2 separate regions of the Homo sapiens genome follow, and region 1 is reported to be linked to region 2. Evidence: microRNA targets listed by miRTarBase, many of them from high-throughput screens and not tested one by one. Region 2 holds a microRNA gene; the other region holds the end of a gene's coding sequence.
Evidence for each region. The annotated mature microRNA hsa-miR-5690 reads UCAGCUACUACCUCUAUUAGG and lies in region 2 at 2,082-2,102, shown strand. An mRNA with a match to its seed (bases 2 to 7 or 8) in the 3' UTR can be bound and repressed. Matches are read on the target gene's strand: a 7mer-m8 pairs with bases 2 to 8, a 7mer-A1 pairs with bases 2 to 7 and ends in A, and an 8mer does both.

Region 1: miRTarBase lists ELP6 as a target of hsa-miR-5690. The part of its 3' UTR that is shown has no 7-base or 8-base seed match.

The regions. Positions count from the first base shown.
Region 1 is chr3:47,492,287-47,496,668 of GRCh38, forward strand. ELP6 (elongator acetyltransferase complex subunit 6) reads right to left here. Exons shown (of 7, transcript NM_001031703.3): 7 at 3,354-3,911. The coding sequence ends at 3,783. Among named protein-coding and RNA genes, the nearest start is that of SCAP, 19 kb to the left of the region's middle.
Region 2 is chr6:35,662,468-35,666,861 of GRCh38, reverse strand. It overlaps MIR5690 (microRNA 5690), which reads left to right and starts at 2,073; the gene lies at 2,073-2,145. All of the region lies in intron 1 of FKBP5 (FKBP prolyl isomerase 5), which reads left to right. RefSeq lists enhancers at 3,165-3,664, 3,665-4,166.

The sequences.
Region 1 (4,382 bases), not on the chromosome of region 2:
TGGCTGGGCACGGTGGCTCACACCTGTAATCCCAGCACTTTGGGAGGCCGAGGCAGGCGAATCACGAGGTCAGCAGATCAAGACCATCCTGGCTAACATGGTGAAACCCCGTCTCTACTAAAAATACAAAAACTTAGCTGGGCGTGGTGGCAGGCACCTGTAGTCCCAGCTACTCGGGAGGCTGAAGTAGAAGAATCGCTTGAACCCGGGAGGTGGAGGTTGCAGTGAGCCAAGATTGCGCCACTGCACTCCAGCCTGGGCAACAGGGCAAGACTCTGTCTCAAAATAAATAAATAAATAAAAATAAAATCCTGGACTCAAGTGATCTGCCTGCCTCAGCCTCCCAAAGTGCTGGGATTACAGGCATGAGCCACCATGCCCGACCAACACCAGGTTTTAATTGATAAGTAAGCAAGGATAAGGAACAGATTCTGTACACACGGAAAAATACAGAGAAAATTATATGCTAGTGATTAAAGAAATGTCCATTTCACACTAGAATCATTTTTATGGACCATATCACACCTTATGATCCTGTTTTTCTACCCCTGTATTAGTCCATTCTCACACAACCACCACTATTAAATTAATTAAAAATAAGTTAAACCCAAAGTTGACAGAGCAAAATCTCTGCATCATTGTCAACTGGCTCCATCATTCTGAAGAACAACCTGATAATGTGCCAGGGCCAGTTTCTGCTGTAATTCAATAATTCCATTAGAGGGTATGGACTAAAATGTCATCACCCCTCACTTCTCACAGGCCCCTGTGCTGGTTTATTTATAGCACTTATTGTGGTCTAAGTTAAATATGTCCTTTGTCGATTCTGTTGATTGCCTGTCTTCTCTTCCAGAACGTAAGTTCTATGAGCTCTGCCAGTGACCTGGTTTGTCAGGTTCTAAACAAACAAGTACTTATCCCCACCCGCAATAGGTAGAGTATATAAAATTTATAACAGCATAATTGATAACTGTAAAAACCAGAATCTACATGCCCAGAGGATAACTAAACAAACTAGAATATAATGATAGCATAAAATGCTGAATAGCTTTTTTTTTTGAGACTGAGTTTTGCTCTTGTTGCCCAGGCTAGAGCACAATGGTGCATTCTCGGCTCACTGCAACCTCCGCCTCCTGGGTTCAAGTGATTCTCCTGCCTCAGCCTCCCAAGTAGCTGGGATTACAGGTGCCCACCACCACGCCCAGCTAATTTTTGTATTTTTAGTAGAGATAGGGTTTCACCATATTGGCCAGGCTGCTCTTGAACTCCTGACCTCAGGTGATCCACCCGCCTTGGCTTCCCAAAGTACTGGGATTACAGGCGTGAGCCACTGTGCCCCGCCCTCAATAGCTATTAAACATAAAATATTTAAGGGGAGGCTGAGACGGGAGGATCTCTTGAGCCCAGGAGTTCAAGACTACCCTGGGCAGCAAAGTGACACCCCGTTTCTACAAAAAAATTAAAAACAGCCAGGCATGGTGGTGGGCACCTGTAGTACCAGCTACTCAGAATGCTGAGGTAGGGGAGGATCACTTGGAATTCACGTGAACTAAGAAGTGCCACACTGCACTCCAGCCTAGGCAACAGAGAGAACCTGTCTCAAAAAAAATAGTGAAAACATCTATAAACTAAGTGAAGAAACATGATAGCAACATTTATGTCATGTAAAAAATGGTGCCTTGCCCATTCAAAATCGTAGCTCAAACGAAGTTTGCATAAATAATGAAGTCTTAGTCAAAGAATCATTAGATTCTTTAATAACTACTTTCTCTTAATTGCACTCATAACTTTCAAATATTCTATCAGGTCTACAGTATTTTGAGAATAAAAGCAGCTTACTGTTTCAGACGGATAACATACACAATGGTATGATTTGAAGAGAAGTGTGATAAATTTTTCCTAAAGACTAAAAATCCAAAAAGTTAAAATTAAACAACAGATATGAGCTGGGCGTGGTGACACGCACCTGTAATCCCAGCTACTTGGGAGACTGAAGTGGGAAGAGCCCTTGAGCCCAGAGAGTCGAGGCTGCAGTGAGCTATAACCACACCACTGCAGTCCAGCCTGAGCAACAGAGAGAGACCATGTCTCAAAACAAAGAAAAGAGGCTGGGCATGGTGACTCATGCCTGTAATCCCAGCACTTTGGGAGGCCAAGGCAGGCAGATCACCTGAGGTCAGGAGTTCAAGACGAGCCTAGCCAATATGGCAAAACCCCATCTCTACTAAAAATACAAAAATTAGCTGGGCACAGTGGCACGTGCCTGTAATCCCAGCTACTTGGGAGGGTGAGGCAGGAGAATAGCTTGAACCCGGGAGGCGGAGGTTGTGGTGAGCCAAGATCATGCCACCACTGCACTCCAGCCTGGGTGACAAAGCAAGACTCCATCTCAAAAAAAAAAAAAAAAAAAAAAAAAAAAAGGCCAGGCATGGTGGCTCACATGCCTGTAATCCTAGCACTTTGGGAGGCCAAGGCAGGCGGATCATGAGGTCAGGAGATCAAGACCATCCTGGCTAGCACGGTGAAACCCCGTCTCTACTAAAAATACAAAAAATTAGCCGGGCATGGTGGCAGGTGCCTGTAGTCCCAGCTACTTAGGAGGCTGAGGCAGGAGAATGGCATGAACCCGGGAGGCGGAGCTTGCAGTGAGCCGAGATCGGGCCACTGCACTCCAGCCTGGGTGACAGAGCAAGACTGTCTCAAAAAAAGAAAAGAAAAGAAAAGAAAATAACAGCTATGTAAGTTCCTTAGTATACAGCAAAATAGTATTATTTTTTCATTTTCTTTAAGATAAAATTCATTGTAATATAATTTATATACCAAAAAAGCAGCCATTTTAAGAGAATACACCTGGTGTCTACTCTGAGGTGACCTCAACTGAGGGGCTGAGTGGGACTAGTTGTCATCTACAGGATGCGGGGCAAGAGCCCACCTCCTGCAGTCTTCACAGGTGAGGGAGGCACCAGCAACTCGCCAAGGCCTGATCCGCCTGGCAGCAAGAACATCCCTTACCCCTCTCACCAAGACCATACACACCTGCGCCTACACAGGGCCTCATGTGGCCAAGGCCCTGGTGCCAGGCCCTTGATGGCTAGGATTTGTTGGCATAAAGGCAAGGCACCACAGAAACTGGAGAAGCCAAAGGTCCCCACCTTTGGGTGGGGAGCTGGCCTCTGGGTTCCATGACTGTCAGTCAGCAAGTGTGGACTGTGGAGTGAGGCACAGTTACTTACAGCCTGCTGTGCAGCCTGTGTGCTTCCAAACCTCTCTAGGTCTGTTTCCTCGCTGAACTCATAGGGAAAGGGAAAGTACCTTTCCAGGATGGAAATTGAACAAGACAACCCACAGGAAGCTCCAGTGTGGAAACTTACTTTATTCCAGCCATGATTATCCTAGTTGTCACCTTGCACACCTGCCATCCGGTGCCATCTCCTGGCTGGCACATCTATACCCACTCTGGCTCTGAAAGGCTTGTCAACCAAAAATGGGCAGCTGGGGCTAAGGCATATTTAAACAAAGGCTCCAAAGGACCCCTTTCACTTGGGTCTAGCATCCAGCCTCTCTCTCAGCAAAGGCAGGATTGTGGTCCCTTGTGTTTTCTGAACAGGGCCCAGGGCAGCCAAGGCATGCCATCACTGCAGCACTCAACCCTCTGGTCACAGTGGAGTCGCCGGTCCAGCCTGAAATATTACTACAGAGGAGAAAGACCCATTCTTGCTATGTTGCTCTATCTTCCACGTCCAAAAACAGTCCTATGTAGCTTCAGCTGCTCCGAAATCAGGTCACAGAACAGCAGGAGACATTCCTTTGGCAAAAAAGGACACGCTTTTGTCCTGTATCTTATACTGGTAAGTGAAGCTCTGATCCCGGTGGACTGCGGGCTGCGATGGTCTCCTCCACAGGATCCTCAGCTACAGAGACAGAGAAGAATGAAAGAGGAGCAGCCACCCCAGGACCTGCTCCACTGGGAACCCCACCCTACCTTCTCTGTGCCCTTCAGCTGAGGCCTCTATGAGATGATAGTCAGATGTGCCATCTGGTAATGGGGCCAACTTGTAAAATAAAGCCTATCACCAGCTAACTACAAATAAAGGGTTCCCCTCCATTACAGTAGTCATATTGGCTCAATACAGAAAATGTGAAAGAGGAAAAAAAAAGGAAACAGAAGGAAAAAGTCTTTCAGAGGAAGACCCTTAAAGTATTTTTATGTTTTTTTTTTTTTTTTTTGAAGCAGAGTCTCACTCTGTTGCCCAGGCTGGAGTGCAGTGGCGCAATCTTGGCTTACTGCAACCTCTGCCTCCTAGGTTCAGGCAATTCTCCTGCTTCAGCCTCCCAAGTAGCTGGATTATGGGTGCGCATCACCATGCCTGGGCAATTTTTGT
Region 2 (4,394 bases):
GCCCAGGCTGGAGTGCAGTGGTGCAATCTCGGCTTACTGCAACCTCCCGAGTTCAAGGGATTCTCCTGCCTCAGTCTCCCGAGTAGCTGGGATTATAGGCGCCTGCCACCATGCCCGGCTAATTTTTGTATTTTTAGTAGAGACGGGGTTTCACTGTGTTGGCCAGGATGGTCTTGATCTCTTGAACTCGTGATCCGCCTGCCTCAGCTTCCCAAAGTTCTGGGATTACAGGCGTGAGCCACCGTGCCCAGCCTTCATATACATTTTCTTTACACAAATAGAATAATTATATTCTGTTCTATAAATAGCTTTTTTTCCCCTTCATGGCATTCTTAAACTTTCCATATCAATTCGTTTGTAACTGTGTCTTTATTTTTAATTATATAATTTTCCATTGTAGAGATGTATAATAGAAGTCTATGAAGGAAATCCACTCCCCTCCTTTTTTTTTTTTTTTTTTTTTTTTTAACTATAATAGTAGTGTTTCTGCATGTATTTTTGCTTGCTTCTGTGAGAATATCTACAGGTTATTTCCTGGAAGTGATATTGCTGGGCTAAAGGATATTTGCACATAAACTTTCAGTAGATATTGGGAAATTCGCCCTTAAAAATATTCAACAAATTTGTACTCTTACTAAAGATATGAAGTGTTATTTTTCTGATAACTGTACACACTTTAATTTTGTGGATTAGAAGGATTAAACTTCTGAAAATGAATCCTTGTCATAGTAGCTTGAGATGTTCAGAAGATGATACATTAGGTAATATATATGTTCCTTGGCTTATGGTGGTTTTACCTCCTGATAAACTCATTGTAAATAGAAAATATCACAAGTTGAAAATGCATTTAATATACCTAACTTACTGAACATCATAGCCTACCTTACACATGCTCAGAACACTTAAATTAGCCTACAGTTGGGCAAAACCATCTAATAGAATGCCTATTTTATAATGTGTTGAATGTCTCACATAATTTATTGAAAACTGAAAGTGAAAAAGCAGAATAGTTGTATGGGTGCTTGGAGTACTGTTTCTACTGAATGTGTATCGCCTTCTCACCATCATAAAGTTGAAACTCGTAACCCAAACCATAAGTTGGGGACTGTCCATAGTTCCATTGCCTGATGTGATCTGTTGAAGTTAGGTGGAAGATAGTGTACTATGACCTCTACAGACCCATAGTGTGTATTGTACAGATTTAGATGAAGAAGATCAGAATGTTGGGTTTCTAGGTTTTTATCTTTTTAGAATGTTTAAGATAAACATTTATGGCCAGGCACGGTGGCTCATGCCTATAATCCCAGCACTTTGGGAGGCCGAGGCGGGCGGATCATGAAGTCAAGAGATTGAGACCATTCTGGCAAACATAGTGAAACCCTATCTCTACTAAAAATACAAAAAAAATTAGCTGGGTGTGGTGGCACGCGCCTGTAGTCCCAGCTACTCGGGAGGCTGAGGCAGGAGAATTGCTTGAACCTGGGAGGCGGAGGTTGCAGTGAGCCGAGATCGCGCCACTGCACTCCAGCTTGGTGACAGAGTGAGACTCCTCTAAAAAAAAAAAAAAAGAGGAGCATTTACTAGTGACATTCTAAAGGAGCAGAAGACCCTGAGTGCTGGTTTGAGAAGTTTAGATTTGTTGTGTTGGAACACTATTTAAGGTCCATGAATTAGAGAGTAATGTGGTGGGTGTGCTGTGTCAGAAAGGCTTCACTAGCAGTGTATACAGAATGAGTGGGAGTGAGTGAGCCGTCTGGAGGTAGGCAGGTCCTCTGGAGAACTGTAGTAATTCACAAAGGAGAGGAAGAAAACTCAAAATATGATGATAGCTATGGAGTCGAAAGTAAGATAAGAAACACAATGAATAGTTGGCGGTCCTATTGATTAAGTGGAGAAAAATTATATTGAAGTTGCAAACCTAGGAGAATGGCCAGATAATACAGATTATGAAATAAATGGAGAAGGGACCAATTTTGAAAAAGTTAATTTTCCTTAAAAACATAAGGAAATAAAAGGGTCCTGAAGTGAGAGAAATCAAAGATTGGAGAAGGAAAGAGGGAGAAATTATGCCACTTTTAATTTCAGCTACTACCTCTATTAGGATTTGGGAGTTATACTAATAGAGGTAATAGTTGAAATTAAGAGTGGATGAGTTCTGGTATGAAGTGGTTGATGGGGACAACTGTTGATTGACAACTGCATTTTAAGGAGAGGATACTGATAGTAATGGGAGATGGGATGAAAGAATGCCCAGGCAGAGAGGAAATTTAATAATTTCAGGAGTGGGGAAAGAATAAAGACAAATGTTACTGCAGCCTACCTTTCATTCTTTTACTGTGCATGAGATACTGTATTTGCTGGATGTTTTCCTGTAGATACCACATTGTTCTTCCTCCGGGAGTGGCATGTCAGAAAATTTGATGATTATTTTAAAGATGTTGAGTTTTATTCCTGAAATTGAATATGGTAACGGAAAAAGGGTCTTGGGTAGTTTTTGGTGTCATATGCTGTGTTCCTTTTAGTTCATAAAATCTTTCATCTTGTTTGAATATCTGTGGGTCTAAAAAAAAAACAGCTAATTTTTGGATAGGTAAAAGTCCAGATACTTTGTACATTTTAATTGATTATTTAAAAAATATTCCCTGGCTTTTAAAACTTGGCTAATACAAATTGTAAGAATCACCATCTTTTTAGAAGAACATACTGTGAATTCAGAATTTTTGCTGGCTTAGTGCTTGTCAGCATGGAGCCTGTTCACAGGAAATGCTTTAGAATCAGAGTCAGAGACCTGTGACACTTCTGGGGAGTCAGTATGTAAAATAGTTAGAGTGCAGGCTCCAGAGTCAGTCTCCCTGGTTCCACTGTTCACTAGAAGTATATCCTTGGATAGATTACTTAGCTCGTCCATTAGATTTGCTGTCTGGACGTGTCAGTAGTAACAATCTCAATGTCACACGGTTATTGAAGAGATCCATCATAGAGCTTACATTCTAGTAAGGAGAGACAGGCAGTATACAAATACTATAAATACACTGGAGGAAAACATAGTGGGGCTGATTATAGTCGATTTTTGCTCTTTTATTTCCGGTAACAGTAAAACAACTCTGATAAGAAAAGGTTTGAACATGAAGGCAGACCTGAAGCGAGTGAGGGAGTGAGCTATGCAGCTAACCAGGGAAGAGTTCCAGGTAGTGGGGATAGCAAGTGCAAAGGCACTGAGGAAAGGGCACATGGGAGGGGGCAGCAAGAAGGCCACTGTAGCCAGAGCAGTGAGTGAGGGAAAAGGAGAAATAATTTCAGAGATAGCGAGTGATCAGCATGTATAGGGTATTAAGCATAAGAAGGACTTTGGATTTTATCCTGTGTGAGATGGGAAACCATTGGAGTGCCAGAGTAATTTTTTCTTAAAGCTAGTCTGCTTGTCATTTCTTTTCTTAAAAATGCCTCAGTTCCCTGTTGCCTTTGGAATAATGTTCACGTACTTTACTTTGGCACACAAGGTCCTTCACAGTCAGGCCTCTGCCTGTTTATTTAGCATCATCTGCTTCTTTCCCACATGTACCCTTCACTTTAGCCAAGTGGGATCACATGCAGCTCCCTGGATGGGTCATGATGCTTTGTGTCTTCGCGTCTTTCTGTACCGTTTGCCCTGTGAGAAGCCCTCCCCCTCAGCTCACATGGTCACTGGCTCTGTTTTAGAGGGTCCTCTTTGTGCTCTTGCTCTCTCATCATTTCCACCCGGAGCCACTTTGCACTTAAGCTGCTTAGGCTTGAAACGTGCTGTGTTCTTTTACCAGCCTTGATTTTACTCTTGCCACACCCTTGCCGGTTGAAAGTATGCCTATCCAGCTCAGACACTGCCATCTTCTGCCTCCTTGGGACCCTCAGAAACACTTTGTAGCTCTCTTCTACCTAATAATAATTATTTGGAATTAAAATGTTTCTTTGCCTTCACAAAAAATCCTTGGGCTAACTTATTTCAGTTTTCTTTGTAGCTCCTAGAACAGGGTCTTACAGACATTTCATATTCAGTAGGTATTCATGGTGTGTAGGATTCATAGTATAATTAGAAAACTATTGGCTTTCAAACAACTAAGGGCCAAAAGCAGCAAAAATGAATGCACAATTAAAATGAGTTCCTATTAACAAAACAAATTTACTGTAATTATGATAGCTAGGTAATCCTTGTTCTCTTATATATTTATATATACTTACTAGTGGCACCAAATATTAGTATACCCAGTTTGAGATGCAGTTTGTTGAAATATATTTGGACACAGCCAGGCGTGATGGCTCACATCTGTAATCCCAGCACTTTGGGAGGCTGAGGTGGCAGGATCGCTTGAGCCCAGGAGTTCAAGAACAGCCTGGGCAACATAGTGCGACCTTGTCTC